7 separate regions of the Homo sapiens genome follow, and all the other regions are reported to be linked to region 1. Evidence: microRNA targets listed by miRTarBase, many of them from high-throughput screens and not tested one by one. Region 1 holds a microRNA gene; each other region holds the end of a gene's coding sequence.
What was found. Region 1 holds the annotated microRNA hsa-miR-1-3p (UGGAAUGUAAAGAAGUAUGUAU, at 2,017-2,038, shown strand). A microRNA usually pairs through its seed, bases 2 to 8, with sites in the 3' UTR of a target mRNA and lowers its output. Matches are read on the target gene's strand: a 7mer-m8 pairs with bases 2 to 8, a 7mer-A1 pairs with bases 2 to 7 and ends in A, and an 8mer does both.

Region 1 (4,360 bases):
GTGAAACTCCAACCCAGCCATGCCCAGCTGCAGACCCACTGCCACACAGCCACAGCATGCTCAGTGGCCTCTGCACACTGCAGGCTCTGCGGAGACATTGCCCTGCCCTGGGTGGTAAGAGAGAACCAACTCGCTCCGGGCTGTCCCCTCGCATGGACGGGCTGCCTGGAGGAGCAACAGAGTCATGTTGGACCTCTCTTCCTGATGAGGACAACGGGAGGTCCTTTCATGTCCCGGGGCTGCTGTCCCACCCCACGCCAGGGTCAGTGGCAGGACAGGGGCCAGGGCCCAGCTGGACCCCACCGCTTAGCAAGCCTCCTGTGTCTGTGCCCGGCCTGCACCCCCAACTGGCGCCTCCCTGGCCCCCGTCCCCCCCAGGCACCTGCAAAGCCTTCTTTCCACCTCTCACCACCGCACGTGCCAGGCTCGCCCTGGGCCACTGCGAGGCCTCGAAACCCTGCAGGCCTCCTCCTCCTCCTCCTCCTCCTCTCCCCGCTCCCAGCAGGTTCGGGGCGGCTTCCCTTCCTGCTGGTGAGGGCCTAACCTTGAGGTCCCATTGGTCTCCTTCTGGCTCTTTCTCCACATTTTTCAGAGTCTGGCTTCACGGCTGGTCATAGAAGTTGGCAGGGAAGGAGGCAGCCTCTGCTTCCCACTCAGAGACATTTTTAAACGCAATGAAAAACATATCGATACAATTAAGTATTCCAAAGTGCTTAGTTTGCCACTCGCTAAGTTTACTTAAACCCTCTTTAACAGGCTCATTAGGAGCTGGTGAGCACCGGGAAATTCATTAACAGGAAGGCGGCCCCCTGCATTTGACTGTAAATTGGTATTGATCAGGGGCTGGTGGAGGCTGGGCGGCTGGCCACAAAGAGCCAGGTGTGGGACCAGCCTCCCGGGGGTGCCACGGCAGTGGCGCTGGGCAGGTGACGGTGGCTGCTGACCCCCGGTGCCCATGTAAGCTGCTGGCTCTGCGCAGCTGCCGCTTCAGGTGGGCCGCACTGCGCGGCGGTTCAGGGTGGTGACGCTGCGAGGCGGGGACGGGGGAGAGGGTGAAGAAGAGCGAGAGAAGGAGGGAGAGAACCGGGGGAGCGACGCTCCCTCGCCCACTGGGTGTCTGCTGTGGCCAGGCTGAGGCACCTAGGGAGTTGCCCCCCTAGTGGACGGCCTCTCAGGAGATCCTGACCACCCTCTGGGAACCTGGACTCCTCCAAGCATCGTCTTTCTCGCCTGCATCTTCGGAGAGAGGTGCTGAGCCCTTCCTCATGGATACGGGGTCCCGGGAGGCAGCCTTCACCAGGGACCTGCCCAGGAAACCAGCAGATGCCCAGGTAAGCCCCCAGGACACCTCTCGGGTCTCTGGTCTGCAGTTCCTCGTCTGGCCTCAGGAGCAAGGAGTTGTCCAGCTCCCGGAGAAGGAGGAGGCTGGTCCTGCGAGTGGGGTGCTGGGCAGGGCGCCCCCCAAGGTTCCTCTCTCCACCCAGCCCTCTCTGGGCTTGGCTGGGATGAGGTGACCCAGGGGGACAGGAAAGTGTTGGCTTTGAAAGTTTGGGACATGGATGATGCCTCCCTGCTCTGGGGTGAGGGTGGAGGGGCAGCCTGTCTCTTCCATGGACGCAAAACCGAGCTACTGCTGGGGCCAGGGACAGGCGCTCGAGACTTTCTGGGGCTCACTGTCCACTTCTGCCTTTCTGGATCGTGTGAGTGTGTGAGACAGACAGAGAGAGATGGATTCAGGGATGGAGGGGCGCCGAGGTCAGAAGGGGGCAGGGAGTCCTGGGCCCCTGGGGGTGGCTGGACACCAGGCAGCAGTGGCAGGAAGGCTGTCCTGCTCACACAGAGAGGGCTCCGGCAGTAGACTCCAGGGAAGAAGTTACACTGCCTCTGAGCTGCCTTCTCTACATCGCAGTGGGGTCAGCTTCTACCGGGGCGGCGTCCCGGGGTCTTGGAACTGCATGCAGACTGCCTGCTTGGGAAACATACTTCTTTATATGCCCATATGGACCTGCTAAGCTATGGAATGTAAAGAAGTATGTATCTCAGGCCGGGACCTCTCTCGCCGCACTGAGGGGCACTCCACACCACGGGGGCCGCCGCGGCCGACAGCCAGCCAGGCGGCTGTGGTGGGGGTGAGGCTGGGGCGGCAGGCTGCCTGGGCGTTGGTGGACGGTCGTGTCCCCGCCAGCATTGTTCTGTCACTTTGCCTGTGTCAGCAGGTGGAAGTGCTCACCAGACATTAAATATTCAGCTTGCTGACTGCGGCAGAGGGGAGGCGGCCTCCGGCAGGCGCGGGGTCCAGCGCGGGGCTGGTGAGGGCTGGGGGGTCGGGGCCGTGGCTGGAAAGCACGGAGTGGTGGCGGCGGCTCTGGGGGCTCCACTGATGGCCATCCTGGAAGAGGCCATCAGCCGGCAGAAAGGGCCACGTGTGGCCAGGGCAGAAACTGCTCAGAGGCACAAGACAAGAGCGAGTTTGGAAAAGGGCAGGTGGCTGGATGCAGAAAGGAGGGAGAGGCTGGGCAGCACATGGTAGAGTCTGCGGAGGGAAGGCACCTCCTGCACCTGCATCCAGCCCTCCCGGCTGTAGGGCAAGGCAGAGGAACTCGGAGGCATGTAGCCTCCAAGGAAGGCGCAGCCCACACGAGATGCTGGGGACGCGGGCAGGGTCAGGGCCACCACTGCCCTTAGGCCCCACTCCTCTGCCGAGGGCACCTGGGACAGGGTCAGAGGAGCTGAGTCTGTGCAGCCCTGAACCCACAGCCCACCCCAGGGGCCTGGGAGCCGTTCGATTTTGCCAAATGTCTGGTTCATGCCGCCCCAACCTGTACCCCCACCAAAGCCCCGGTTCAGCTTTCTCTCTGTTCCGCCGAATCCAACCTGAGGCATGTTTTGCTGTGAATGCAGGTGAGGCTTTGGCAGAAAGCAGCGTGTGGCCCAGGGCCCCTTGCCCCACCTGTCGGGGGCCTGAGAGCCATCTGCTCTGCCGCCATCCCAGTCCTGACCCGAGAAAGGACTGGGAGGATGTCCTGGGGCCCAGGGGATGAGGGCAGGTCCGGATCCGTCCGTGAAACCCTTTTCCCCAGTGCTGGTCCTTCAAGGAGAGGATGGGCGGCGGGTTCTGGGGTCTTAGGCAGCGGCTGGGCTGCTGTGTGAGGGGCGTTTGCCCGGCTCGTTTCTGAGTCTCAGATTGGAGGCGTTTGCCACCTGGGATGAGGCCAGGTCCCTGCCTGGGCACCCCCACCCTGCCACAGGCCTCAGGATTAATTTCTGGGGTGTGTGTCCTCTCTGCCTTGGCACTGCTCCAGCCACAGCGGTGCCCCTGTGCCCTACCTCCCGCACCCTGGCCTTCGGCAGGAATGAGGCGGGAAGGGACAGGCAGGCAGCCCCCTCCTGCAGCGGCTGGAGGCCTTGGGTCTGGGGGCAGCCAGGTCACCTGAGCAGCTGGGGCCAGCATAGGGAGCGCTGGATAAAGGGATTGGGGGCCGTTCTGAGCTTTCAGGTGGCTCCCACCCCTCAGGGAGCCTCGAGGTGACTGGAGGGGAGGGCCTGGCAGTCAGGGCTCCTGGCCTTCAGGTCTTCCTTCTGGAAACTTCGTTCTCCCAGCCTCAGCCCCATCTGGCGTAGCAGCAAGGGGGCGGGTGTTGACCTCGGGCACAGCCTCCTCTCGGCCTCTGGACCCGGAGGGTCAGTGCCCAGCATCCGCTGACGTCATCTCTTCCCTGCCTGCTCCCAGCTCCGGCCACAGGGAGGGAAGTAGCCGGGCGTGTGGCCACCGAGGCTGCCGGTGGCCACAGACACACCGTTCTTTTCCCCTAGATGCGGCTGTTGTACATTAAAGCTTTATTGCAGGATGTGGTGTTTAAATAAAAGCATTAGTGTTTTGGAATTAGGTTTGACTGAGCAGTAAAACTGGAGAGTTCACAGGGAGAGAGCTGCGGCCTGCTTGGCGGTAAATCACCTCCAGTCTCTGATCTGCTGAATTAAAAATGAGCATTGCACGGACACCGCCCATGGCAGCCCGAGCCCCTCTCCCCTGCACGTGTGGCCTGATGGTGCTCCCTGGGGATCCTGCTGCTTTCCTGGAGACACTGGGACCCGGGGCTGGAGTCTCCCATGCGTGAATCTCTAAAGCTTGGCTCCCGGGCAGCAGCCAGGACGGGAACCCCAAACTGGCGTGGGGCATGGACACGCTGGGACTTTCCCCTGTGGGGGTCTTTGTGCCTGTCCGTTTGAAGGAGGGGAGAGCAGGCAGGGCGGGGGCACAGACCCTCACTGGCTATGTCTTGCCCGCAGGGACTCTCCTGAGACGGCTTAGGCACGCTACCATGGGGGCCGGGACTCTCAGAGGGAAATGAGCCTGGAC
Region 2 (4,360 bases), not on the chromosome of region 1:
CTGCTGCTGGTGCCCGCCTTCCTCCTCATCGGCTGGGGACGTTCTCTGCCCGTGCTGGGCCTGGGGCTGCTGCTCTACTCCTTTGGTGAGTGGCCCTGCCCTGGCAGGGGATCCGATGGGCAGCAGGGGCTGGGTGATGCACCCTCCCCTGGGCTGACGGGCACCTCCTCGATGTCTCCCACCAGCCGCCGCCGTTGTGGTGCCCTGCCTGTCCTCCGTGGTCGCTGGCTATGGTGAGCCCCCTTCCCTCGGCCGAAGCCACCTGAGCGGGAGAAGGGCAGTGGTGCCTGACTGTGCCTCTTCCCACAGGCTCACCAGGGCAGAAGGGCACGGTCATGGGTACACTGCGCAGCCTAGGTGCTCTGGCCAGGGCCGCGGGGCCCCTGGTGGCCGCTTCAGGTGAGGGCGCGGGATGGTGCTGGGGCAGGCTGGGGGCCAAGCACCTGCCCTCGCCTCCCAAGTGCCAGCCCCCTCGGGGACTGGGTGACGCCACCGTCTCTCCGCAGTGTACTGGCTGGCCGGGGCCCAGGCCTGCTTCACCACGTGGTCCGGGCTCTTTTTGCTCCCCTTCTTCCTCCTGCAGAAGCTGAGTTACCCGGCACAGACGCTCAAGGCTGAGTAGCTGAGCCACTGTGCCCAGGCTGTGGGCACCAGGCAGAGTGGGAGCCTAGGTCAGGCCCCTGCCCACTGCCTGACCCCCACCCCCCGCCAGTCCAGGGAGACCCTGTGGGTGGGGGCCGGCCCCTAAGCAGGAAGCTCAGGCAGCTCCTCCAGACTTACTTACTCCTTCAGTGACTCCGAGCTGCAGCACTCCAAGGCTGTCAGGGCTTCTGTTTGTTTTTTAAACTATGCACCAGGTTTCTGATGATGAAATAAAGCACCTGTTTGTTTTATACCAAGTGCCTTTCGCCATATATAGCCGTGCTTCTACCCACACCAGGAAAGGCAGCTGGAGCTGAATGAATGGCTCCACTGACCGGAAGGGTCCAAGGCTCTTTGAGACCCTCAGTTTCCCCCTCTGCACAGTGGCAGCCTGGGGACTCACTCAGGCAGGCTCCTCCAAGGCTGGGGTCAGCCCTGGCCAGGTGGTATCTGGCAGTGTGCCCCGCACCCTGGCAGGATGTCCCCAGCACAGAGCCCTCCCCATCAAACATGAGCACACAGTGACAGTGAGACTGGGACCATGGGGACAAGGACAGGCCAGCAGTTCCCTGGACACCCTGAGTTCCCGTGGAGAGGGACACCAGGAGTGCTGGGTGGCACGTCCTGCCGCACGCGTGGCTGCAGGTGACATTTTATCAAGACATGAACATTAGGAGGTCTCTTTTCAGCACGAGACAAACATGGGAACAAAGAAATTAAAATATAAAACTGCTTCCCAGATTTAGACAAGGAACTTGCTGAAAGAATTTTATTTGTGAGTAAAACATGTTACACTGGAGAAAGGACATTCAGGACCTGTCCTCCCAAGTCGGTGTCCATATATGCAACTATATTTCATGTTGTAATACAAAGGATTAAACTACAAAAGTGAAAATTAAAAGTCATTGCATATGTGGGGTAAAGGAGGGGATAAAGGAAGAGTCCACGGTTAAGGACTTTTCATTCTGCCTTGGCAACAAAACGACACAGAAGAGAGGCAGCACGCTTGCCCGCGTAGCAGGCCCTGCGGCTCAGAGGAAGCTGGAAGCGGCGGTCAGTGCCATGCAGCAGCCTGGTTCTCGCTCGGCTGGCCAATCAGTGGGATCCGAGGTGGCTCGGCCCATCATGCCCAGGATCTGAGCCCACATCTGGCACCAGCTCTACCAAGGGCCTGTTGGGCCCACACAAGCTTGCCTGTACCTAGTCAGGCTGGTACCGGCACCTCCTGAAATGGGTCACCCTCCGGTTCCTGCTCAGCAGCTCTGAGCCCTTTTCCAGCCTCTTGGAGGGAAGTAACAACAACAGCATCTGCCGAGGAGCACACGGTTCAGGCTCCATCAATGACGGTGATGTCGAGGGGCCCCAGGGCTACCCTCCACCTCGAGTTACCTTTGATCACAACTAGGGCATCTTTCTGGCTGAGTTAAGGTGAGAACAGTCCCCTGAAGCCTCCCCCAAATAAGTGAAAAGTGCTCTACTGTGGGGTCTGGAAAGAAGAAAGCAAAAAGCAGCCTATTCACGTTCACAGTCGAAAAATGTAAGCTAAATTGTAAACCTGCTCAAAGAAAATTCTAGAAAGGCCTCTTCCCCTCCTGATATACCTTCCCTATGACAGGAATCCAGAGACCCAAGTGAAAAAGAAACTGAGCTCCTGAATCTGATTCTGGTCGAGGGATCGTCGGTCAGACATGCATAGCATCACGTTGGGTGCACACAGGCCCATCTGCCGCTGGGGTTTCCTGCCCAGCATCTGGCCCAGACCTGCCTCTTCAAGGCCGCTGGTGGGCACACGAGTGTTTTCACGGGACCAAGGCTTTGTATATAGATTTAAGTGAGATCACTGAGCAGAGAGAATGCCACATGAAGCCAGGAGTCTGAGTCCGTCACCTGAGACTTTAGGGTGGAGGGGAAGCCAAGCAGAGACAGAATGTGGTGATTTCACAACAGGAGGGACGGCAGGAAAGGTGAGGCTCAGGAGGGTGACGTGCAGCCAAAGCTGCAGAAGCCTTCAGTACCTTCCAGCCAGGACCATGACTTAGTGCCTCCCCCCTGTGGGGAGAGCATGTCTCCCCCAGAAGCTGAGGCTCTGAGAGGACAAGGGGCAGGGTGGGGTGGGGCTGCTGAGCACACACTGGGTCAGCCCGGGGCTACACGGGGCTGGTCACGTGAGGGGACCTCTAGGCGGAGGGCTTGGCTTTTTTGCATTCCATTACACAAGGACAGAGCACAGACGTGGCCGGGGACGCTGGCAGAGCCAGGGTCGCTCCGGACAGGACAGTGTTAGCGCAGGGCTTTCAGGAGTCACTCTTCTTCTTGCTCTTCTTCAGAAAGGACGGGGTACGGAACTTCTTCTTCTTTTTGGACGGGGACTTGCCTGGAGACCCATCGCTGCCAGGGTCCGCGGCGGCCCCCTCCTCGACAGCTGAGGGGGCAGCCTCTTCAGCCACCGGGGCTGGGTCTGGGGCTGGCTCGGGGCTGGCCTCAGTAGGGGCCTCAGTGGGGCTTGGGGGTCTATGGGCTTCCTCCTCCTTCTCTAACATTGGGAAGCCGAGTGCTTCTGAAGGTTCATCAGGGGACAGATCGGGGAGAGTTGGCTTAAAGGTGGCAGCATCACTGTCATCTCCAGTAGTCGGCTCCGGCACAAGGTCTAGTGGGTGAGGTGAGAGATGGGATTAAGGGTTCCTGCCCAGATCTCAAAGGGCAGCTTGAGATGGGGGAGCCCCACACACGAAACTGCCATTTTATTTTACTCTACAGATTTTTACCAAGACAAGAAACTTAAAATATGGTCTACTCTACTGTACGGCTGGATGGAGCTAATATCATAAAATACAGACTCAGTCTCGGGGTAGTTTTTAGCTCCTTCTGGTGGGCAGTGTGCTGACAACACCAGACTCCGTCCCAGGCCTGGGTCCCCCCGCCGGAAAGACAGACTGCAGCACAAGCTGAGGACGACTAAAGGAGCGACGTCCCGCTTTCATTATGTGACGAGAAGTCTGCCCTGTCACCCTAAGGGCATGTACTAGTAGTACTGAAATTAAGTCTAAATTTGGGTCTACAACACCTGGTCTCCCCCAAAACAGCCAGTAGAAAATCGTGCATAACTCCCACAGCACGTTGTGTGACGTCAACATCCAAAAGAACAAAGCCGTTTAGGCTGGAAGTTAATTAAAAGGAAAGAGATGGCCTGTAAGGCAAGGAGTGGGGGCAAAAACTCCACCCAGCATCAGGAGTGGCCATCTGTGAAGGAGCACAGCGGCCCTGAGGACACAGCCTGGGGGCGCCTTCCTTGCACTTACCCGGGCACCCGCTCTGTCCATTCGTAAACGGCCTACAAAGTTACCAGCAACTGACAGGTTAGGCACCACAAGCTGTTTAGTGTTTAAAAATCAAGCCACACATCAGGGCCAGGGGAGTCAGCTGAGTGGTTAGGAGCAGCACAGGAGGCCCAGGCCCCAAACTCTCAGTGCTTTACCTTTGGGAAGCTGGAAGCACCCCCACCCTGCCAGCTGCCCCAGGCTAATTCCAGGCCACGCTTCATGAGAACCGGGAAAGGGCTATGGGCACACAGGCGCCGCTCCCCCTGAGGAGATGGGGCCCGCTCTGCTGGGCATGGTGTGGCTGATGCTAGGACGGAGGCTGCCCCAGGGCACTCGCTCTGGAGAGCTGCCATCATCTGAGTGAACATCACACTGCTTTACGAGGGTCCAATATCCGC
Region 3 (4,360 bases), not on the chromosome of region 1:
CTTTTAGAATTCCTTGAAGATTTTGTTAGTGTATGTACTATCACTGTAATTATAAACCCAACATAGATTCTACAGACTAACCGGCAGCTTAAAATTTAACCCCAGTATATTTTCCTTTCAGACATCTTTCAGAGTCAAGGGCCCAGGTGCCTAACTAGCAAGTCCTTAGAGCTTTTTTTTTTTTTTTTTTTTTTCAGTGATTTCAAATATAACTGTATTATCTGGACCCATTAACATGCTTCCCTGTCTTCTATTTGAATTGCTCATGTTTGTGAAGGGAAAGGTTAAGATATATCAAGTTAAAAAAAAAAAAACTGGCATGAGATAAGAGTGTAATCTAAAAGCCCAAAAGAACAACCCTGCTTAATTAAAATAATCTTGAGAAATGAGCATTTGTTAAATAAAGTGTCTTATTTTACATACTTATTTCATCTTTCTTTTTTTTTTTTTTAATGACAAAATAGTATTTAATCCTATATTTAGTCAAAAGACCAGAGTTAAACCAGATCTCTTCTGGGGCTTTTTCTGTGTAAACCACATCAAAACATGAACGAAAGACTGGCTTCTGGTTTAGTCAATCCTGGTAAATTTACCCAATCCTGCAAAGGAAACTATGGAGGAGAAATCCAGGGACTTGTTGGGAAGGGCACACAGAAACCTTAGTTCAAAAAGAAACTAGTCATTGTTCGGGGCCAGCAGAGCTCTCAGTAACACATTTTCTTTGTTTGTTTTACCAAGGTATTCCTGCTGCCACCAAGAGACAGCAATGACATGTACAGCCATCTGGGACATGCCTGTCTTCCTAATACCATTTGGAGCTGGACAACATTTGACACCAACCAATCATACTGGACAAGGCCCTTAGAGGACTTGAAATATACTTCTCATGCTGTAGTTTATTTAGGCTGTGACTCTCTCTCTAATGCTGCTCTCGGGAAGGACGAAAGTGACCTGCAAGGAGAGAAATGCAACCATACATGGGCTCCAGTCAACTATGGGACTGAAGGTCCTAATTGCTCACCCAAGGGGGCTGCTTAACACAAACAGCCTCAGACCCGAGGTTTAGATTTCTGAAATATGCATTTTATGTTAAGTTGGGTATTTTTTTAAAAAAAGAAAAACAGCAACATTAATAAAAGAAGTGGTGTGTTTTTCCCGTGGCCAGATTTTTAAGAAACTTGAACATCTGGAAGTTGCCACAGACAAGCGAGCTAGTCCAGACACAGGGACACTCCAGGCTATGAACCAAGCCATGGTTAAACCAAGACTTGCCTAGACAATGCAGAATAACTCTCCCATACAGACTTCTTACGACAATCAAGTGAGGGCCTTTCCCTTCTCTGAAGGCAAGTAATAGGGCAGAAGGTGGAACAAAAAGCATGAGAAATCTAAGGTAGCCACATCCCAAATGCCAGTTAATAAGCAACTAGCTTCTTTATTAGAGAGGAGCGGGTGAAAAGTAGTAGTTTAATGTTCAGATATACAATCATTTAAAAGTATTCAATACATGGTGTTTGATGGTAATGGCAGGATGATGTCAAGTCTCTCTTTTTTTTTTTTTAAAGGTTTGTTTGAGTCCTATGTGGAAGCAAAAATTCACAGGTGAATTTCCGGGTGTTTGCCAAACTCTAACTAGGTTTCCAGGAATAATGTGTTCACTCTGATTACCAGGGCATGCCTCCTTTCCTCAGGCTTCAAGTGTGATAAGTCGTCGGAATTTGACCCAAGACTACTATCGGCAAATGACAAAGTGCTTTATCACATTCCTGCTAAGTCCCAGAATTCCACTTACAGCCAATCCTGAATGAGACTAGGTTTTGTCTAAAGAATCAAGGCTCAAACGCCAAGAAAAAAATAATAATAATAACCATAATCTCTTTAAAAGTAAAGGAAGCCTAGAAAATCCATGTTTTGACTTGTGTTAAGGTTTACAGATGGTACTCAATTTACAATGGTTTGTCTTGCAATTTTTGGACTTTACAACGGTGCAAAAGCCATACACATTCAGTACACCCTTCAACTGAACTCAACTTAAGATGGGGTTACCCAGACATAGACCTAAGTTGAGGAGCATCTGTAATTGCAGAGTTAAGCAAAATATTTTAAGTTTCTTTAAGTTTCTTATCCCCCACTCTCACTTTCAATTTTGTGTATTTAGATAATCTCTCCTTCCTTTTTCCCTTCAACTTTATGTGGACAAAAGCAATGCTTCAAGAAAAGCCTCAATCTAAAAGTTTGATAATGAACTTGACCCTCCACTGCCCCTACCCCAACAACATGAAGAACTTGTCTGTTCCACCTAGAAATACAAAAGTGAAATACTTTTTTGAAACTGTTGCCTCTTATCAGGCTGATATGTGATAAGAACACAGTCTAAAGTACAAAGATTATATTTAACCAGTACTTTCCTGGTGTTTTAACCAGCCCCTTCTAAAATACAGTTGTTCTTTTATACTTGGGAAAGCAGCAAGTCCTGTGACAGACCCAAAGTCACTCTAGGGAGAAAATCAATAGCAAGTCTGGCTGTTTTAACTCTCAACACCACTGTAAGGGAAAACAAGAAAATGTCTAGTTTCCCGAATAGCTCTGATACTGAACCATTGGCTAAATCCATGAACTTTATTTTCCTACCATGACCACAATAGACGACTGGTCTTTGCAGCTTCGGAAGAAAAGAGGACTAATATTTAGACCCCAGCTGGCTGCACATCCAAATCTTCTATGGAGGTTAAAAACACAAAAGTGGCCATCCCACTCCACCACCAAATTTTTTTTTTTAATTGAGATAGGGTCTTGCTCTGTTGCCCACACTGGAGTGCAGTGGCACAATCACAGCTCAATGCAACTTCAACCTCCCAGGCTCAAGCCATCCTCCCGCCTCAACCTCTAGAGTAGCTGGAACTACAGGCCTGCACCACCAGGCCCAGCTAATTTTTAATTTCTTTTTTTTTTGTAGAGACAGGGTCTCGCTATGTTAACCAGGTTTGTCTCAAACTCCTGGGCTCAAGTCATCCTCCAGTCTCAGCCTCTCAAAGTGCTGAGATGACAGGTATGAGAATTTTTTGAGAGGAAGTGGCCTTTATTTTTTTAAAGAAGACTCATAAGGATTTTTGACAATCACTGATTTATTGGGTCACTAGTCTGTGCTAAGTACTCTGCCAGGCATTTAACATACATTATTTCACTTGTTTTCATGATTAAATTCAGGCAGGTTCAATCACAGAAACCATGCAGTGGACAAAAGAGAGAAAAAGTTCACCATGAGGAGATTCTAAAAACCTGCCTTTTGACTTGTCTATTTTTATCTCTTATTTCTCACTTTGCTTCTCCTCCCGCTTGGACCCTTTGTCTGACTGTTTGAAATTAAGTTGCAGGTGAACCCTCCATTACCCATGTCCAGAACAAATAGACATAAGCACAGAACCTCACTAACTCCCCAAATTTTTATTTTTCCATTTTTATCACCACAAATTTCTTGGTAACAATGTAGAATTTAATTTTGTAATTAAAACAAAAACTCTCCCCTAGGAGGAATCTGATGACATAAGGATAACACCAAGTTATGTGCACAAACGACAAAAAATGCCAAACTAACTGGAATGATCATCCTTCCTGAAATTTCTCTTAAAAAGCAGAGAAGTAGAACCAATGCTGCCACCTAGTGGCCAGCCAAACAAATCAGGTAGCATACTGGAGAAAAAGGTCATAGTCCCGACAATCTGGTTTCCCTGCCTATTATCAAGCCACCTAACTCCTTACTTTTCCACAAAAAAACACAACCACATATCTTAAGCAAGCCCTCCTCCACAGTCATAATCCAAATACTTGAATACAGCAACCAAAGTCTGTCTTGTTAAACACACTACTTCTCATGAAACTTTCCTCTGCCTATTTTAAGGTAGGTTTGCCCGGTCCTATGGCCCAGTAGAGATGACACAGGAGAACACGGAAACATCCAAAATGTTCACTGGTTCAGAGTGTGTACACAGTAATTTTGATGTCTGTTGCCTCAAATACCTCCTCGATCATCGCAGATACATTTTCCCATTGCAGACGATCAAGACCACATCCAATCCTGAAAAAGACAAAATATCTCCATTGATGGTAACGAAAGTATCTAGGAAACTGCTCCTCTCTTTTAAGCTATATCCACTCAAAGCATAAAAACAAATAATCTAGTCTGACACCCTTATGGGCAACCATGGTAGGAGTTTGGAAGTCAATTCTTGTTGTGAGTCACCGAAGACCATTCCTAGACAGCTCTAACATCCAAAAACTATCACTTCTGTTTGCCTAATAAGATACTACTTTCCAACTATTTCATGCTACATTTAGAAATGTGTAACTGTCATGACATTAG
Region 4 (4,360 bases), not on the chromosome of region 1:
GGAAGGACTGACAGAGATGGGGGTAAAGTGGCCAGAGAAGATGATAATGGCTGGGCATGGTGGCTCATGTCTGTAATCCCAGCACTTTGAGAGGCCGAGGCGGGTGGATCACTTAAGGTCCGGAGTTCGAGTGCAGCCCGGCCAACATGGTGAAACCCCATCTCTACTAAAAATACAAAATTAGCTGGGCATGGTGGCGGGCACCTGTAATCCCAGCTACTCAGAGGCTGAGGCAGGAGAATTGCTTGAACCCGGAGGCAGAAGTTGCAGTGAGCAGAGACTGTGCCATCACACTCCAGCCTGGGTGACAAAAGCAAAACTCTGTCTCAAAAGCAAAAACAAATAACAAAACAAAACAAAACAAAAACCCCTACAAAACAAACACCCCCCAAAAAACAGAGAAGATGGTAAATCACAAGTTGAAATCAAAGAGAGTAATCCATGGAGACACGAAAAGTGCATAACACAACCATGAACAACTAGAAATGTGTCACCTGTCTTCTGGAAGCTGAGGGCGGAATAATTCCCCCAGGATGTTCTTCTGATGTAGCGAATGAGAGGACGAGCCTATTTGTCTCGTAGACGAAGCTGGAAATTTCAGCTCAAGGGTTCAGGCTCCTCCCTGTGCATCCTTTAGAAGTAAACACAGACTAAAACCTGCCATTATGCAGTATATTGCTGCTGTGATGAAAAGCACTATGATGTGCTTGAACGAATAAGGACAAGATTGCAACAGAATTCTCAGCATATTAATAGAGACAGGCTTTCAGAGGGACTTGCTACTCATTTACTGTCACTTTCTTAATGACAATGGAAAATGCTGGCTCCTCTTCTATATCCAGGGCTACACATTTAAACAAAACACTCTTATTTCCCGCTCAATGCTATCTCTGATTTTGGCAAAGTACAGGTGGGTGAGAGTATTAGATTTTGCAGTTATTTCTTGAGGCATATTTAAGACATCAAAGATAAAAACACATGGAGTCACGTGTAATAATCTTAGAGTCCAATAAATGACTAGCTACTTGATTAAACCAAATGGCATTATAGCATGTTAATAAGGATTAAACAGACGCATTTTCACCGTCATTACTTAGATGGAATGAGTATTTTTTTTTGTTAACTTTTATTTTAGGTTCAGGGGTACATATGAAGGTTTGTTATATAGGTAAACTAGTGTCATGGGGGTTTGTTGTACAGATTATTTTGTCACCCAGGTACGAAGCCTATTAACCAATAGTTATTTCTTTCTGTTCCTCTCCCTCCACCCACCCTCCACCCTCAAGGAGGCCCCAGTGTGTGTTGTTCCCTTCTCTGGGTCCATGTGCTCTCATCGCTTAGCTCCCACTTACAAGTGAGAACATGCAGCATTTGGTTTTCTGCTCCTGCATTAGTTTGCTAAGGATAATGGCCTCCAGCTCCATCCATGTTCCCATAAAATACATGATCTTGTTTTTTATAGCTGCATAGTATTCCGTGGTGTATATGTACCACATTTTCTTTATTCAATTTGCCATTATGGGCATTTAGATTGATTCCATGTCTTTGCTATTGTGAACACTGCTGTAATGAACATTCACATGCATGTGTCTTTATAGCAGAATGATTTATATTCCTCTGGGTATATTCCCAGTAATGGCATTGCTGGGTTGAATAGTAGTTGTTTTTAGCTCTTTCAGAAATTGCCACATTGCTTTTTACAATGGTTGAACTAAGGTACACTCCCACCAACGGTATATTTGTGTTGTTTACTTTACAACCTCGTCAACATCTGTTCTTTTTTGACTTTTTAATGACTGGTGTGAGATGGTATCTCATTGTGGTTTTGAAGACAGACATGCAACCAACAAGCATATTTTAAAAAGCTGAATATCACTGATCATTATGGATAAGCATTTTAAGTTAGATAACTGATAACAATTATATTCCTTATTTTAAATATAGTCATTGATATACTACAAATTGTATTTCTCTCTCTATGTTTGCCTATAAAATTTATTTACTTAATCAAAATGGTTGCCTGATATAATTTCCCCTGCAAAAGTTGTCAAAAGAATAATGTTATTGCCTTAGGCAGGAACTCAAGCACAAAGATAAAAAGCTGTATCTGAGTATTTGCTGTATTTTATTTGTTCACATTTAGCCTATTTGAGGTTAACACTACTTCATTTGACAGTTTAAAAATCATCCTGTAAATAGAATAAAAAACAACAGCAGCAATAGCTAAAAAAAGGACACAATGTATAATAAAATAAAGGAATGTGTTGAAAGAAATATTCCAAAGAAGCAAAGGAAATGAGACCATGATTATGAATTCAACAATCAGAAGAAAAAATCGTCCAACATCTGTAAAAAGCAAAATCATAACAGTAATAAAAAAGAAGCAAGAATTCAAAGTGCAGGTGCGCTAGCTTTCATTTCCACATCCATTCAGGAAATAGAGCATACTATTCTTTTATATAAAGTGACAAGTTCTGTTTTTAAAACATTCAGTTACATTATCTTGCAGATTTTTTTTCAGTTTACATTATCTCTACATTGATTTGATGGAAAGATGGTCATATGCGATATGTGGTATAAATTTCTTCAATCTATGGAGAATACGGAAATGGTAAAGTTGACTGTTTTACTTATGTTTTTGCAGTAAGAAGCTAAACATCCAGTATCAGAAGCATCAGTACTTTTACTCTTTCAAAAACAAAAGCAAAGCAAAAGCAAAAACCTGTCATGAGCCCTCTGTCTTTGCTGCTACTTTCAGATTCTCTGTGACAAAAGACTGTTACTTTTCACTGAATTCTAATGAGTTGACGTAAATAATCAGAACAATTTCTTAAATGCAAAATTGGTCTGGTATCTGTCTAAATTGGTCAATACAAGTGTTATTCTGGAATCATGTAAAAATCACTTACTTTCATAACTGTTTAGAACCCCAAATGTTTTCCCTTTGAAGGGGAACATCTGTGGAATATGATTTTGAATAGAGGACTTCTATGAAATATATTTCAAATCTTAAAAATATTTTTAATACTTCCTAAAGTGGTATAGGATTTACCCTCGCTGACTATGCCTTCCATTTAAGAACAGTCTTGCATTTGTGGCTTTTCATTTTCCTTACAGCTCTAATTTTATTTAAAAAGCCTGAATACACAAATGACTGCTGCCTTACTTAGCATTAAACAGTACTATTTTTTAAACCATGTATACAGCTCAACAGCAAGATTAATAAGTTATAATACACACATATCACTGACAGATTCATCTTTTTGTTTTTTAGAATTCACGAAATAAACTGTATTCTGGTAAATCCCCTCCCCGCAACAAGAGTGTAATGTACCTACATTGAGGTGTTTAAATATTTCTCCAACAGTTTTCATTGAATTACATTATGAAAACACTAGGCTTCAAGCCAGGTACTAATAAATATTTAATTTAAAAGAAAGAAAGAAAAAACTCAACACAGAAGAACATAAAAAATCCCTCCCCTCCCTCTCCTCCCACTCCCCCGGGAAGGCGCCCGTGTCAGCCGGACATGGCCGAGATTTCATAGTCACTGGCCGAGGTGAGGGGCTTGCCCATCATCCGGATGTTTTTTGCACTGGTAATCCTGGCCATCATGCACACGGGCTTGTCAAAGTACTTGACCAGGGCAGGCTCAGTTAAGAGGGAGGCCAGGAACTGCTCGAAGGTGATGGCCCAGTCCCGGTCCAGGCTGGTGCTCCGGGGCAGTGCCGCCGTGCCCTGGCCGCTCCGCACCAGGACCGTGTCCTCTCCGATGTCCTCGCAGTGCAGCTTGTCCTCCTCGTGGGAGCCGGCACTCAGCACCGAGTATGAGGACATGGAGCTGTCGTCCTTGGTGTCGTCGTCAGAGATCAGCATGGAGGAGCAGGCCCCGTTGTCCCGGGGCGAGGAGTCCTCCAGCTTGATGTCCTCCATTTGTCCTCCAAGGGAGTGTTCCTCGCTGTCGGGGGCCAGGCTGGCCGGCAGGGGCTCAACAGACTCCACCACGTAAGGCTGGCCTGGCCCTTTCTTGGGGAAGAGCACGCCTGGGATGCCCTGGTGGCAGGACGGCCCACTGCCTCCGCTCCCGCCCTCCTTTGCAGGCTGGGCCACGAACAACTTGCCGACCTCCCCAATCTCCAGCAGGAGGCTGGTCACTGCTGCCGTGGCGTGGTACAGCTCCTGCTCATTGGGGTCTTCGCTGAACATGTTATACATTGTCTTACACAGTTCAATGAACTGCCCCTGAAAAGCGATTTGGAAAAACACAATGTGAAATCTTGGGGGAGCAGAAAGGCAGCACTGAAGTGGACTGTAAAGCCATTTAAATGAGAACGCCTAAAGATCCCTGGAAAGTCCTCCG
Region 5 (4,360 bases), not on the chromosome of region 1:
TAGTGTGAAATTTGAGTCATTTTTTCTTTAATATGAGAGCTAAGTGGCATATGTACATTGTATTTAACATATTGCCATGTGTCTTTCCAGGATCAGTCTGAGACAGAAGCCAATGTGAGTCTTGCAAGTTGGGATGTTGAGAAGACAGCCATCTTTGCTTTCAATATTTCCCACGTCAGTAACAAGGTTCGAATCCTAGAACTCCTTCCAGCTCTTACAACTCTGACGAATCACAACAGATACTTGATCGAATCTGGAAATGAAGATGGCTTCTTTAAAATCAACCAAAAGGAAGGGATCAGCTACCTCCACTTCACAAAGAAGAAGCCAGTGGCTGGAACCTATTCATTACAAATCAGTAGTACTCCACTTTATAAAAAGAAAGAACTTAACCAACTAGAAGACAAATATGACAAAGACTACCTCAGTGGTGAACTGGGTGATAATCTGAAGATGAAAATCCAGGTTTTGCTTCATTAATTCACCATCCAGAGACCAAATAATTAAAAGAAAAACAAATATAGATAGGTAGAACTATATTTTCCCCCAATCAGAATCATCATATCATAGGTACAATCTTTCACCAAGTAAATTTGTATAAATAAGCACTATTCTTTGTATTACCAAAGCAAGGTACAGGTGACTACCCTAGTTCAAAACAACCACTTTCTCAGGCTTCTCATGTGTGTAGCTAAGCTACCTTGTCATATGTGTTGATTCTTGAAAACTGGGACGTGTATTTCCATTGGGGGTTGGCCATTTATGCTGACATGCCATCCTTCCAGCAAACGTACGGGAATGTGCTTTCAATTGATGGACTACTCTATTTTTTGCAAATTTGTAAACTTTGCTTCTCCAAATACAAGTACTAGGTTGTCCATTTATGGTACCTATTTGGTGCTAGTAAATTTTCAAACTAGATTTATAAATGCACTGTAATATGTACACAACTTAGAAACCAAATTACAAGTATTCAGTTCCAATACTTCATTAATTTCAATCAACCAAAGTTAGTTCAGTAGCTTATCTCAGTTATGAGTATAATACATTACATGTAAATTAAGTGTGTGTATACTGTAATCGTGCTATTTTTTATCATTGAAACATTTATAAACTAGAATAATAATGCCCTTAATGTGAGGGTTTGTAATGGTGCTTATTAAGACCAAAGACTTGTTAAATGTATACACCAAGTGGTAATGAAATTTCGGTGACTGGCCCACACGTGCATAGAGGTCTGGGAGGACCAGGAAACAGCCTCAGTGGCCAGAGGATCACCAGTGCATCCTTCATCACAGCATGTGCAATATGCCAAGATTACCCTCGGTCATTCCTGTCAACAAGGGGTCAATGTCATAAATGTCACAATAAAACAATCTCTTCTTTTTTTTAGTTTACCCCTTGGCTTTGTGTTCTTGCATGGATTTGGGGTTGGAGGGGCCATTCCGGAGGCTAAATAAAGTCTCCTGGATTTAAATTATCCTGGGTCTCTTACTTATGGCTTATGAAAGTACCAAATGTATAACCACTAGAAGAAAATTTAACATATGAGTCGATCCCTTGTTTTATCCATTGAAAGTAGCAGAGTCTGGTGTCATTAACCTGACTTGCTTGTGAGAAATTTAGATTGTAGAGTCATTTCTGAAACATGACCTAATTCATCTTGTGACTTTTAAATAGTCTTAAATACCAAGTTCAGTCATTGTCTTAGAGCACATGAATTTCATTATAATAGATTTATCATGCCCCCCTCTCAAATATACACAGTTTTGGCAAGCCTTAGGTGTTCTGTTCCATTTTTTTTTCCCCTAAACATCTTTCGTTAGTCAATGCTCATCTAATTACAAAGGGATAATCCCAGACTGTATCCAATTGCTGTAACTTTTGGTTTCTTAATGTCATAATTTTTAAAGTCTGTTTTATTTTAAGTGCAATATTGAGTATTTAGCTGTTAGGCTCAATCCGTCGATATGAAATAATTTTTTAAATCCCTAAGGGCAGGAAAGCATTTCGTGGTAGTGAAAATAAGAGGAAATAAGATGGCATGAAGGTGGTGGGCGGAGAAACTAGGTAGGACACAGGAAAGTGCTCTCAAAAATCTTTGAAGAGCTCAGCTGAAAAAAATGGAGTAGATTTGGCTCATACTATTCCGGAAGGCAAAACCAGGGTCAGCTGATGTCAGCCCCAGTTTAATACACACGGTCCCAATTATAGAGCTACTCACTGAAAGAATGGGTTTCCTTGCATTGTGGTGAGCTCCCTGTCACAAGATAGAAGAGTTTCAGTCTAGGCTTAATGGCAACCATTGGACAAAGATGCTTTCTTCCACCTAACAGGCCATTAACATCTTAAAGGTATTTTTGTATCTCTAATTTTGTTTATAATAGGTGCTCAACAGAATGAGCTGAATGGCTGTTACAAAGGGGGTTTGTACCTTGGGTAAGAGATTAAAATATAACTCAAAATTTCCTTCTAACGCTGCACCTATGGAACCATGTGATAGAGGTGTATTAAAATTGTTATCGAAGAATATATAGCATATGGTAAACAACAGTTTGCATATGGAAAATGTCTTTGATAATTTAACCAGAACTGCATTATATTCAATAACGGATTTTCTTTATAACAAACAACAGGGGAAAATGGAGTTGGCACACAGTGGATCACTTTGATATTTTTAATAGTCCAAGTCTGGATTTTATTTATTCCTGAGCCAACAATTTTGAACAGCATATTTTCCATGTTTCTGACTGTAACAAAACATTTTCCTCATTGTTCCATTGTAAATATTCCTCTTGTTGGAACTCTTTTTAATCCTGAGATTTAAACCTGTACCTTTCAATTGTCTGTGACCTTTCAATTTCACTTTCAATAGTTGAAGAACTTGGCTTTGTAAATCTCTCAGAAGCTTGAAAATATCTTGTCTCTACCCCCTCAGCCCATTTCATTTGCCAATAATTATTTTGTAAGTAGGGTTGAAATGAACTCAGCTGGCCTTGTGAAATGTTTAAACTTGCACAAACAACTACATTTTTGTTCAACAAATAGCAGTTTACTCAGCCAAAATCACTTTGGATATTGCCATTACAAATACTGTTAAACTTCAGAAATCATGTCTGTAAATTAGATGAGCCAAAATAAAGGACAATTGGGTTGATGCTGCATTAGTATCCTTAAAAGTTATATACCCATAAATGTTAGGGATTTTAAAATTACCATCAACTTGGTCCACAGAATATATTTTATTCTGGTTTTAACTGTAGTTCTTAGAGAACTGTATTAGAAATGTAATTATTAGGAATGTAATTATTAAATGATTTAAGGACATTGTTTTTAAAGTTAGAAGATCATTACTGGCAGAAATATTAGTTTCACATTTATAGCTGAAGACAGATATTTACCCCTTGCCAATTTAAAATAACACTTTGTAAAAAAGAGAGAAGAAAAAAAAAACAATTTACTTCATTATGCTTTTTTTGAAACCCAGTATGAGCCTGACATTACGTATGAGTTAGGAAAGGATGATCTATATTATTCTGAGTGTTAGGGTTGGAGAGATAGAAAAGGGCTGTACACTTGACTTTGCAAATTTCCATGTATATTCATGACTGGTTTTATTCACAGGATTGGATCTCAGTTAAAGACATTCTCACAAATATCTGCATAAACATGAGGGTCTTGTACATTTGACATGCATTTGGCAAGACCTGACAAAAATCACAAAATCTGTTGTTTCAACTAACTGCTAATAAATCTAAAATGGTTTCTTTTTTTCAAACAAAGTCATAAACCTTGTTTTAGGACATAGGTTGCTTTGAATCCTTGATTCAAACCTGAATTATGGCTGGGCACTGTGGCTGATGCCTGTAATCCCAGCACTTTGGGAGGCCAAGGTGGGCAGATCACTTGATGTCAGGAGTTTGAGACCAGCCTAGCCAACATGGTGAAACCCCATCTCTACTGAAAACACAAAACGTAATCAGGCATGATGGTGCGCACCTGTAGTCCCAGCTACTCGAGGGGCTGAGGCAGGAGAATTACTTGAACCCAGGAGGCGGAGATTGCAGTGAGCTGAGATTACACCACTGCACTCCAGCCTGCATGGAAGAGTAAGACTCCATCTCAAAAGAAAAAGAAAAAAAAAATCTGAATTATAACTTCTACAAATGGATGTCAGTTTCATTTTTTACTGTTGGATGGTAGAAGGACTGAACCAAGTTATAGCAGGTAAGTGGATGCGATTTCTGGCTAGCTCCACCCTCTGCTATCTCTTCATTGTGATTTTTGATCTTTGTGACCATCCCCATTTCATAAATGAAGGCAAAATTATCCTCTCTGTGCTCCCCTGTGCCCCCTGTGG
Region 6 (4,360 bases), not on the chromosome of region 1:
AATAAACATTGACTGTATTCACACAAATATCCTTATTCAATGCATACCTATTTTTTAAAGGAGATTTCCAGATAATTGAGTGGAAGGGAAGCAATATTTTAATAGTAACATTGGTCAGTAGTTTTATTGATCAGAGGGTATTTTTCCCCTCCTAATTTTTTTAAACAGTGATAATGCCTTGGCTTCAACTTCCTGACTACCTCTTGTGTCAATTTCCTTGCCCATAAAACTGGTTGTAATCATACTAAAGAGCAGCTCACCAATTTTTACTCACTGAGGAAAAAACAAGGATGCTTTCCAACTTAGCCAGCAAAACCATAATCATTTCACAATCTCTCAGCCAGCCGTTTTTGCATGTGTGATTCACTTGTACATCTTGCTGTATCTGTTCTGATTTCTTCCTCTCAAAAATATTTGCCATCCTTTCTATGCTAGCATACCATATTTTGAAACAAGTGCAGCAACTGGACAGAATGTGGAGAAAGCTGTAGAAACCCTTTTGGACTTAATCATGAAGCGAATGGAACAGTGTGTGGAGAAGACACAAATCCCTGATACTGTCAATGGTGGAAATTCTGGAAACTTGGATGGGGAAAAGCCACCAGAGAAGAAATGTATCTGCTAGACTCTACATAGAAACTGAACATCAAGAACCCCACCAAAATATTACTTTTAAAAACAATGACAAACCACACAATTGTTGTTGAGTAAACCACGCACAATGGCATGTCTTTCTTTTTCTGCCAGAAAATCTATTTTAAGAAACCAGAATAGTCAACAGTGTTCAAAAGAATTGACTAGTTATCCCTGAGGCCCTTTCAAACATGATCAAAGATTTCCCAATGTGATCTCATCATCATGGATACTCAATTTGTTTTTTCTTATAGAGAAAATGAGTATATAAGACAATATACAAGAAGAAATATCAGTGAGTTTTAAATCAGAACAAGTTACCTGTCACATTGAAGAAAAGGGTAGGCACTAAAGGGAGAACACAGAAAGAAGAATTTCTAAAATATTGGATTTACTTCTTATATTGAGTCAGATGCATACTTTTAGATTTGCATTGGGGAAAATGTACTAGCTAAAAATGGATACACAATGAAGAATTCTATTTGGCTAATTAAGAATGATATACTATGTACACCCAATAAGCTGTACTAGAATGAATAAATTACTGATAAGGTTACAAATAGGTAAATGTCACACTTCTGTTAAAATGCAGGAGGTAGTGTCATAATGCCGTCTTTATATTCTTAATAAATAGCACTTTGACAAGAACAGGACTGTAAATGATGAAGTACAAGACAAATACCCTGGGAAAAAAAATGAAAGTATGAGAAATTGGCATTTCTACAGCTGAAATTCAATGTATCTGTTAGAGATGTCTGGAAGGGTTACTTAGCCAAATTTTACTCAAGCCAATTAGGAGCTGATATTATCAGTTGGAATTAAGAGAACTCCAGAGGTTTCCATTTCAAACAAAATTTTAGAAATTGGTTTGGTGTTCAGCTTCACATTTCATTTTTTCTTAGCACATGTTGATAAAATAGTCACAAGGAGAAATTACCAGTTACGGTTTATTAAATCTCTTTTAAAATGCAGTCAAGGAAAACTAGCCTTGAATTTTTTTTAGATAAAATAAGATGGTGATATGAAACAAAAAGTGGCAATTATTGCAGGTTTCCTTTTAGTTTACAAAAGTACTGGAAACTAAATCATATTTCTTCCCTCCAAATTTCACCCATTCCTGACTTTGAATCAATTGCAGAAATGCAGGTGTGTTACTTTGTTGATCAATAACTTTGGAACAATTATGGATCAATTCTATGGTCACTCTGAATTTTCATGTCATTAATCACATAAAAATTGATAATACCTCATTCTGTATTACAATATGATTTTATTTTGCCAAAGGCAAGACACCTATAGTTGAGCTGTATTTTGGGGGATTGGGTGAGGAAGGACTTCTGATCTTATCTCAACAAAAAACTGGCCAGTATTTTTGTTAATGTAAAGCTTCCTTTTCTTTCTAAAAAATAGTAACAAAATTATTTTTCATTGGCCTATTCTGTTCTTGTGTCTAAACTAACATTACATTAATTTTTAATCTTAGTTTCTGATAAACACAAGCCATTCCTATCAAAATATTATTTATTTCAGTCAATTTTACCAAATAACAAAGACAATATATTTTCGTTTTTTTTTATTATGAGCATATGATTTTTTGACAGGCTGTTTCCTCGTCGTATAGATTTTTTCCAATCAAACCTACTTTTTCCATACTCTGTGCATATTTTTTGTGAAGTTATACACATTGAAGACCCTAAAAATCCCAGTCCATCATTCAGCTTACCTCTGCGAACTTCTATCTGGTATTGAATCAGTTTCAGAAACACAGACAGATCCAAGGAAATGTCTCTTTATAATGTTCTTAGGATGGACTAGACCCATAAATGTGCCATGAATCAAAATATTAATAATTTGAAAGCTTTCATGCTGTTAGCCCCTGATGAAATTCTCAGCATTAACTGGCCAGCTCCTCTGATTTCTGCAGCATCGCAACAGGTTCGAAGATGGGTTGTGGCTGGGTATTCCCTCCCATGGTGTTTCCTCTGGGATGCTCTTCATTATCTCAATGCCTGTGCCATGAAGATAGAAAACTGTAAGCTAACATTTAAGATGTTTCTTCTGGAAGGAAAGTGAGCAGGAACAAGTTATATTGCCACTGCTGTGGCAAATTTTGGTGAACTTTTGGGGTCATTATATCAATTTTTTCTTTGGATTCAAATTGTAATGTCCCCTGCATTTCCTTAATAGGGAATGTGAAACCTTTATAAAACTCTAAAAGTATTCTGTTTTGATATGTCTTTTTGTTTCTATTCATTTTCAGTTATATGATTGATTTACTTATGCCAAGATTCTGTCACTGTCAGTTATTTAATGAGTGTTTTTTCAGGGTCTGTTTTAAGATCATTATTTGATAGCTGTAGCATGAAGCAGAGGTTGATGATGCCCATAATTGCAAGACTATTCCTGTAAAAATAACAATTATTGGGTAATAACTTCAAGAGGAATGAGAAGTGACAAAATTGATTTAAAATATTGTTCTACTTATAAATAAATGCTTGATATAAAAAATTTTCTCCATAAAGTTTGACATCTGACCCCAGATTCTATGTAATCATTATTAGAAATTCCTTCTCTCATTATTTCAGGATTAGTAGTTCTGTGTAATTCATTTTACAATTTCAAATTGTTCTGGTGCCATAAAGTATACAGACTACTTTAAAGATTTCCAAATCCCCTAATTTACCCCACAACAGCATGTAATTTTAGCCAAGATATGTCCTGTTACTAAGTATCTCCCAATGCTTTAGTAAAACGTATTTAGGAGAAATGTTGAAAATGTACATGAAGCTCCTTTCTGATATAGAAACCATTTCTGGAGTATTTACACTGGTTTGATGTTTACATTGCTCTAACTCGGTGCCTCAGATACCTCTGTGACCAAATTTGTCTCCAACCACATAGCTCATTTCCTATAATGTTATATCATAGGAAGCCCTCACAGAGACACTAACACAGCTAAAGATCTTCTGATATTATCAGCAAGGGATGCAAGGACTTTATTGGAATCTGGAGAGTTTAACTGCCTTCTCTTGGTCTCCTCACTTACTTCTTATGAAGTTGGCATTACCTGAGACTCTTAGCTGTGATTAGGTACAAGCTTACCTTTTAGGGTAGAAAAAGAAAGATCATTTGAAAAATGTATCTAAAATAATCCAGAGAACATAATGTTTGTCTTGGTCTGATAATGATAAGAAGTCAAGGATTGGCAGAGAAAATACTAAACGCCAAGAGTTGAGCCTGTGGGTCTCTCCATAAGAGTTTTAAAACTCTTGCCAGTTACCACTTTATCCAATTTGCTATCATTTTCGTATTATCAGCTATCGCCCTGTAAAATATTCAAAACTAGCTATTTCTAAAGTAAACATTTTATCTGTTACTTTTAACCAGATAGGTGTCTTTGTCATCCTTCTACTATAAATTGTTCTTTGCCAACCTGTACAGGTAGATGAACCAGGCGAGAGTTTTAATCAGCCTTTTCTTGTCCCCTTTGTAAGAAAGAGATGCTTGCCATAGAGAAGGACATGAGTACATTAAAAATAATTTAATAGCCACAATATGATGTTCTTTAAGCTGCAAATTGAGTACACTGGGAATCAACAAATTTGATGAAGCCTGTCTGTCTCTTCACCAGTGGAGTGAGTGCAGCAGTTAGAAAGAGAAGCAATATTGTGCAACTGGTGCAGTGGTGAGTTAATCATAGTGTATAACCTTGTGTTCATGAAACAGG
Region 7 (4,360 bases), not on the chromosome of region 1:
TACTCTAACTTTAGTTCAACAATCCTTGCCTCAGAGAAGCCATTCCTGACCTTCTAGAATAGGTCAAATTCCCCTAATTATTTAATAGCAATAAGAGCTTCTCATTTTTATAATGCATATTTTGGTTGCAATTTTATATGTGTGTGATTAAGTCTGCTTGACCCCACCATACTGTATTACTCTGTGAGCTCCAGAAACTTCGAGTTCGGTTTTTTGTTGTTTTTTTGTCACCATTCTACCTCCTATTACTAGCAGTGTTACATATGTAGTATGAATAAATAAATATTTCGTGAATGAATGAACAATCTGAATACTTAAGAATTTTTCCTGGCCGGGCATGGTGGCTCACGCCTGTAATCCAGCACTTTCAGAGGCCAAGGCAGGAGGACCACTTGAGGCCAGGAGTTCAAGACCAGCCTGGGTGACACAGTGAGACCTTGTCTCTACAAAAAAATATAAAAAATTAGTCACGCAGGGTTAATACCTGTTGTCTCAGCCACTTGGGAGGCTAAGGCAGGAAAATCATTGGAGCCCAGGAGTTGGAGATGGCAGTGAGCTGTGATCATGCCACTGCACTCCAGCCGAGGCAACACAGCAAAACCCTATCTCAAAATAAATTAATTTAATTAAATAAATAAATAAGTGTCTTAAATGTATCTCCACATTTCCCTCACCCTGCCTACCACTTATTCAAATTTCCAGGGAGGGGGTCTCCTGATGTATGTTTCAAATTTATTTTTAAAAATATTCTGCAGGTAATACTGATACCATCTCCATTTGGATTATTAGGCCAAAGCTTTCTAATTAAATTGCTGGTATTAACAATTACTCAAACTGAAAGCATACTGCCTAAGAGAAAATAGTCGATTCACTTTGCAAATTCAGTTATAAAGTGAAAGCAAGCATCAAAGTCGCATAAAAAGCCAAAGGAATCTGATCAAGAAATATTCCAAGATATGAACTGAGAGTCAGAACAGATTTATCTCAATGATCTCCCCAACTATGGCACAATGTAATGACTAAAGAATATTTTACTGCATATATCCAATATACTCAGAGATGAGTAGGCAAGGTGTGGGTATCAAAACAAATACAAAATATTTAGTACCCACTCAGTATCTGTTGAGTTACTTAATTAGCTAAATGAATGAACACAGTATGGTCTCTTCCCTCAAAAGTTTTACAATTGAATTGAAAGACAAATTTTTAAACTCTACTCTTATAGTTGCAGAGAAAGATAAAATTAACATCAGAAAGTTTAAAATCATTAAATACTTTATTTAAGAACAGTTTGTTTACCAAGTTAGGACAGTGGTTATGATTTCTCAATTTACACATATTCCTTTTGAAAATCTTAGAAAAAATGTTTCACCAATGTTAAGGTACAACTCTTGAATATGCAGCGTAGTCTTCTCTCTTTATTCTGAATAACAGAAGCACGTAAATTAAATTATCCTCTTTGCACAATTATTCCCCCCAAAACTAATTTATAACATATAATTATCTCCCTAAAAAGCAGTTACAAACCATAAATTGAATATGAATAAAATATGAAAAAGAGCACAAATTTTAAAGCCCTCCATGCAAAAAAAAATTAATACATTGGCTTTACCTATAAACCTTATTTTGTTAATGCTAAGCACAGAACCCTTATGGGCTCATAGGAGTCAGCAAACAGCTACAGATGAGTCTTCTTGTTAAGAATTCATTCAATGCTTCTCAGAATAGCAGATTTTAAAAAATGAATTCACTGAGGTTCTTAAACCTCTGAACATAAGGCAACAGTTCACAACTGATTTCAGAAATAGAAGGTAAGTATTAAATTACAAATTCTACTAGGTCAGTGGGAGTGGGCGGATTCACCTGGAGTGGAGCAGTGAAGGTTTATTTTACCTCTTTCAAGATCTCTCCATATATTCCACCAGTTTGAGATAGGCTGGGGGAGGAGGTGGAATAGCTTAAAAGGTTATATTTCTTATTTTAAAGTATAAAAACATACACTTAAAGGCTAAACCTATCTATAACCTACATCTTAATGTCAGCAAAACATACTGCTTTCTACCCAAATCACCAATTGAATCAGCCTCGCTCATGATTTCAGAGCATAAGGTGTCCAGAGAAGAAAACTCAAGACTGAATGGGCTGCCATAATGGGGAAGTACAGGTAGCCAAAGGCCAGCAATTGAGACAGCATTAGAGAAACTATCTACTATGTCTGAATAAGCTCCCCTACCTTACAAGCATCAACTACTACATTGAAACCATTCTGAGTGCTGCATTTCCTATATGTGCCTAGACTTGGTAATGCCTGATAAATTCTGTATATTACCACGTCTTGCATTTAATAGACAATTTGTTTAATGATACTAACTTTACTCACACTTAATTGACTTTCTCATATCCTGAGATTAATCTAAGAAAACTATTTCAAAGATAAATTTAAAATAATTTTTAAGGAACCCAGAATTTTTATTTAGAACACTGCTTTGACTTTTGTTATTACTTTGTATTTATTAGTATATCCTATTCATAATTTTGCACTGACTTTCAATATAAAATTAAATCTCTGCTTACACAAAATAACTGTCAGCTCCAAATCAACATGAATGGAGTGACACTGAAAATATCATACTATTCCCGATAAAAAGAGTTTAATGCAAAATAATTATTACCTGGTATTTCACATTCGGTTTGTGTCTTTATCTCTACTCCCAGGCAAATATTCTCACTTAAGACCAGTGCCTTCACTGCTTCTTGTAAAGACATTTAATTTAATGTTATTGCATATTTATTTATTTTTTATGCTTATTCATACAGAATTTATTACTTTCTAGAATTTTGGGATAAGAATCATAATCACTAATGCAAAATACTCTTAATTTTTTAAATGTTGTATTTCTCGTTTTTAAATATTAATAGTTCACTATTCTAAGTTTTTCATGAATAAAAAACACATCCTAAGTTCATGAAATCTGTGCGGTTCACTACTGTACCAGGTATTAAAACCTTAAGGGCTAATCCTCTTCACTTATGAGAATTTCTCAAGAATGAGTCAAATGCGCCACATTTAAATTTGCAGATTATTTTGTCTAGCTGCTCAATCAAGAGAAATACCACTCAAAGAAATCAATTCTAAATTCATGTCTTTAATGAATACTATGTTTTGCAACCTGTATAAAAACTGATCACCCAAGCACATGCAAAAGGAATATAGTTATCTTTAGTGGGCTTGCTAAAGTATTGACAACTAATCAGTGTCCTCTAAATACTCTTATTTTGGCAACAGCCCACAAGGTTAACTTTTAGAAAATTCAGCTTGATACAAGAAAATAATTCATCATAATTAGACAATATAATTTTTCCACTTTTGAGACAAAATATATAAATCAATACTTGTTTATATGACTTGCAAAATGTCTATACACTAAGATTGCTACAGTCTATGAGGTAACCAAAGGTAAGTGATACACATCCTTTAGAAAACACAATTTGTCTGGGGGGATGATTGCACATGTATTTAAATATGTTAAAACCACTGAATTGTGTATTTTAAATGTGTGATTATATGGTATGTGAATTGTATCTCATGAAGGCTTTTTAAACAAAACAACACTGATGTAACTTAGACCAAAAAAAAAAAAACCACAATTTGTCACACATTGTTCTTTTGAGACATATTTTTATAAAGACAGAAATTAACATTTGTAGCATCAGCAGGTTTGATTAGCACATGTTACCCATGTAGGTATAATTGTCTAATCAGTAGCCAAAGTGTGCCCTTGATGCTAATCACCCCTATAACTGAATAATCTGCAAATTACAAAATGAGTTGTAATCCCCCATCCACTACCAGAACATGCCCTGTAATATACGGTGATTCTAAAAGAAACACAACCGCATGTGCCACCTCAATAGTTTCTCCAAACCTCCCAAGAGGAATATTTTTCTTTAAATGTTCTTCTTTCAAGTCTTTCGTCATATCTGTGTGTACAAATCCTAAAAGAGAAATGTTTGTTTAGTTGAAAAGGGTACACACTAAGACATCTGCTGAATTTCAAAAAAAATAATAAATTTGTTTCTGAAAATTTTAATTTGAAATTATTTAAAAAAAAATTTTTTTTTGAGACAGGGTCTCACTCTGTCACCCAAGCTAGAATGCAGTGGTGCAAACACGACTCACTGCAGCCTGGACCTCTGGGGCACAGGTGATCCTCTTGCCTCAGCCTCCCAAGTAGCTGGGACTATAGGCATGCACCACCACACCTGGCTAGTTTTTGTACTTTTTGTAGAGTTGGGCCAGGCTGATCTCAAACTTCTGGACTCAAGGGATCGGCCCACCTCAGCCTCCCAAAGTGCTGGG

Region 2: miRTarBase lists SLC75A1 as a target of hsa-miR-1-3p. The part of its 3' UTR that is shown has no 7-base or 8-base seed match.
Region 3: miRTarBase lists OARD1 as a target of hsa-miR-1-3p. Seed matches in the 3' UTR shown: 7mer-A1 at 3,596-3,602.
Region 4: the mRNA of TBC1D9 is a reported target of hsa-miR-1-3p. Seed matches in the 3' UTR shown: 7mer-m8 at 2,257-2,263.
Region 5: the mRNA of FBN1 is a reported target of hsa-miR-1-3p. The part of its 3' UTR that is shown has no 7-base or 8-base seed match.
Region 6: the mRNA of RAB27B is a reported target of hsa-miR-1-3p. The part of its 3' UTR that is shown has no 7-base or 8-base seed match.
Region 7: miRTarBase lists CBR4 as a target of hsa-miR-1-3p. The part of its 3' UTR that is shown has no 7-base or 8-base seed match.

What each region holds. Positions count from the first base shown.
Region 1 is chr20:62,552,335-62,556,694 of GRCh38, forward strand. It overlaps MIR1-1 (microRNA 1-1), which reads left to right and starts at 1,972; the gene lies at 1,972-2,042. MIR1-1HG (MIR1-1 host gene) reads left to right here. Exons shown (of 4, transcript NR_171007.1): 2 at 1,131-1,331.
Region 2 is chr4:2,927,100-2,931,459 of GRCh38, reverse strand. SLC75A1 (solute carrier family 75 member 1) reads left to right here. Exons shown (of 13, transcript NM_001146069.2): 10 at 1-85; 11 at 186-233; 12 at 310-399; 13 at 507-893. The coding sequence ends at 622. It overlaps ADD1 (adducin 1), which reads right to left. Exons shown (of 16, transcript NM_001354761.2): 16 at 1,398-3,289. The coding sequence ends at 2,937. Among named protein-coding and RNA genes, the nearest start is that of SLC75A1, 5.5 kb to the left of the region's middle.
Region 3 is chr6:41,063,363-41,067,722 of GRCh38, forward strand. OARD1 (O-acyl-ADP-ribose deacylase 1) reads right to left here. Exons shown (of 6, transcript NM_001329686.2): 6 at 1,410-4,075. The coding sequence ends at 3,973. It overlaps APOBEC2 (apolipoprotein B mRNA editing enzyme catalytic subunit 2), which reads left to right. Exons shown (of 3, transcript NM_006789.4): 3 at 739-1,529. Among named protein-coding and RNA genes, the nearest start is that of OARD1, 6.8 kb to the right of the region's middle.
Region 4 is chr4:140,618,676-140,623,035 of GRCh38, forward strand. It overlaps TBC1D9 (TBC1 domain family member 9), which reads right to left. Exons shown (of 21, transcript NM_015130.3): 21 at 2,107-4,242. The coding sequence ends at 3,520. Among named protein-coding and RNA genes, the nearest start is that of UCP1, 52 kb to the left of the region's middle. RefSeq lists an enhancer at 1-135.
Region 5 is chr15:48,407,110-48,411,469 of GRCh38, reverse strand. It overlaps FBN1 (fibrillin 1), which reads left to right. Exons shown (of 66, transcript NM_000138.5): 66 at 91-3,157. The coding sequence ends at 480. Among named protein-coding and RNA genes, the nearest start is that of DUT-AS1, 77 kb to the right of the region's middle.
Region 6 is chr18:54,888,789-54,893,148 of GRCh38, forward strand. It overlaps RAB27B (RAB27B, member RAS oncogene family), which reads left to right. Exons shown (of 6, transcript NM_004163.4): 6 at 436-4,360. The coding sequence ends at 625. Among named protein-coding and RNA genes, the nearest start is that of RAB27B, 62 kb to the left of the region's middle.
Region 7 is chr4:168,986,333-168,990,692 of GRCh38, forward strand. It overlaps CBR4 (carbonyl reductase 4), which reads right to left. Exons shown (of 5, transcript NM_032783.5): 5 at 1,258-3,996. The coding sequence ends at 3,818. Among named protein-coding and RNA genes, the nearest start is that of CBR4, 22 kb to the right of the region's middle.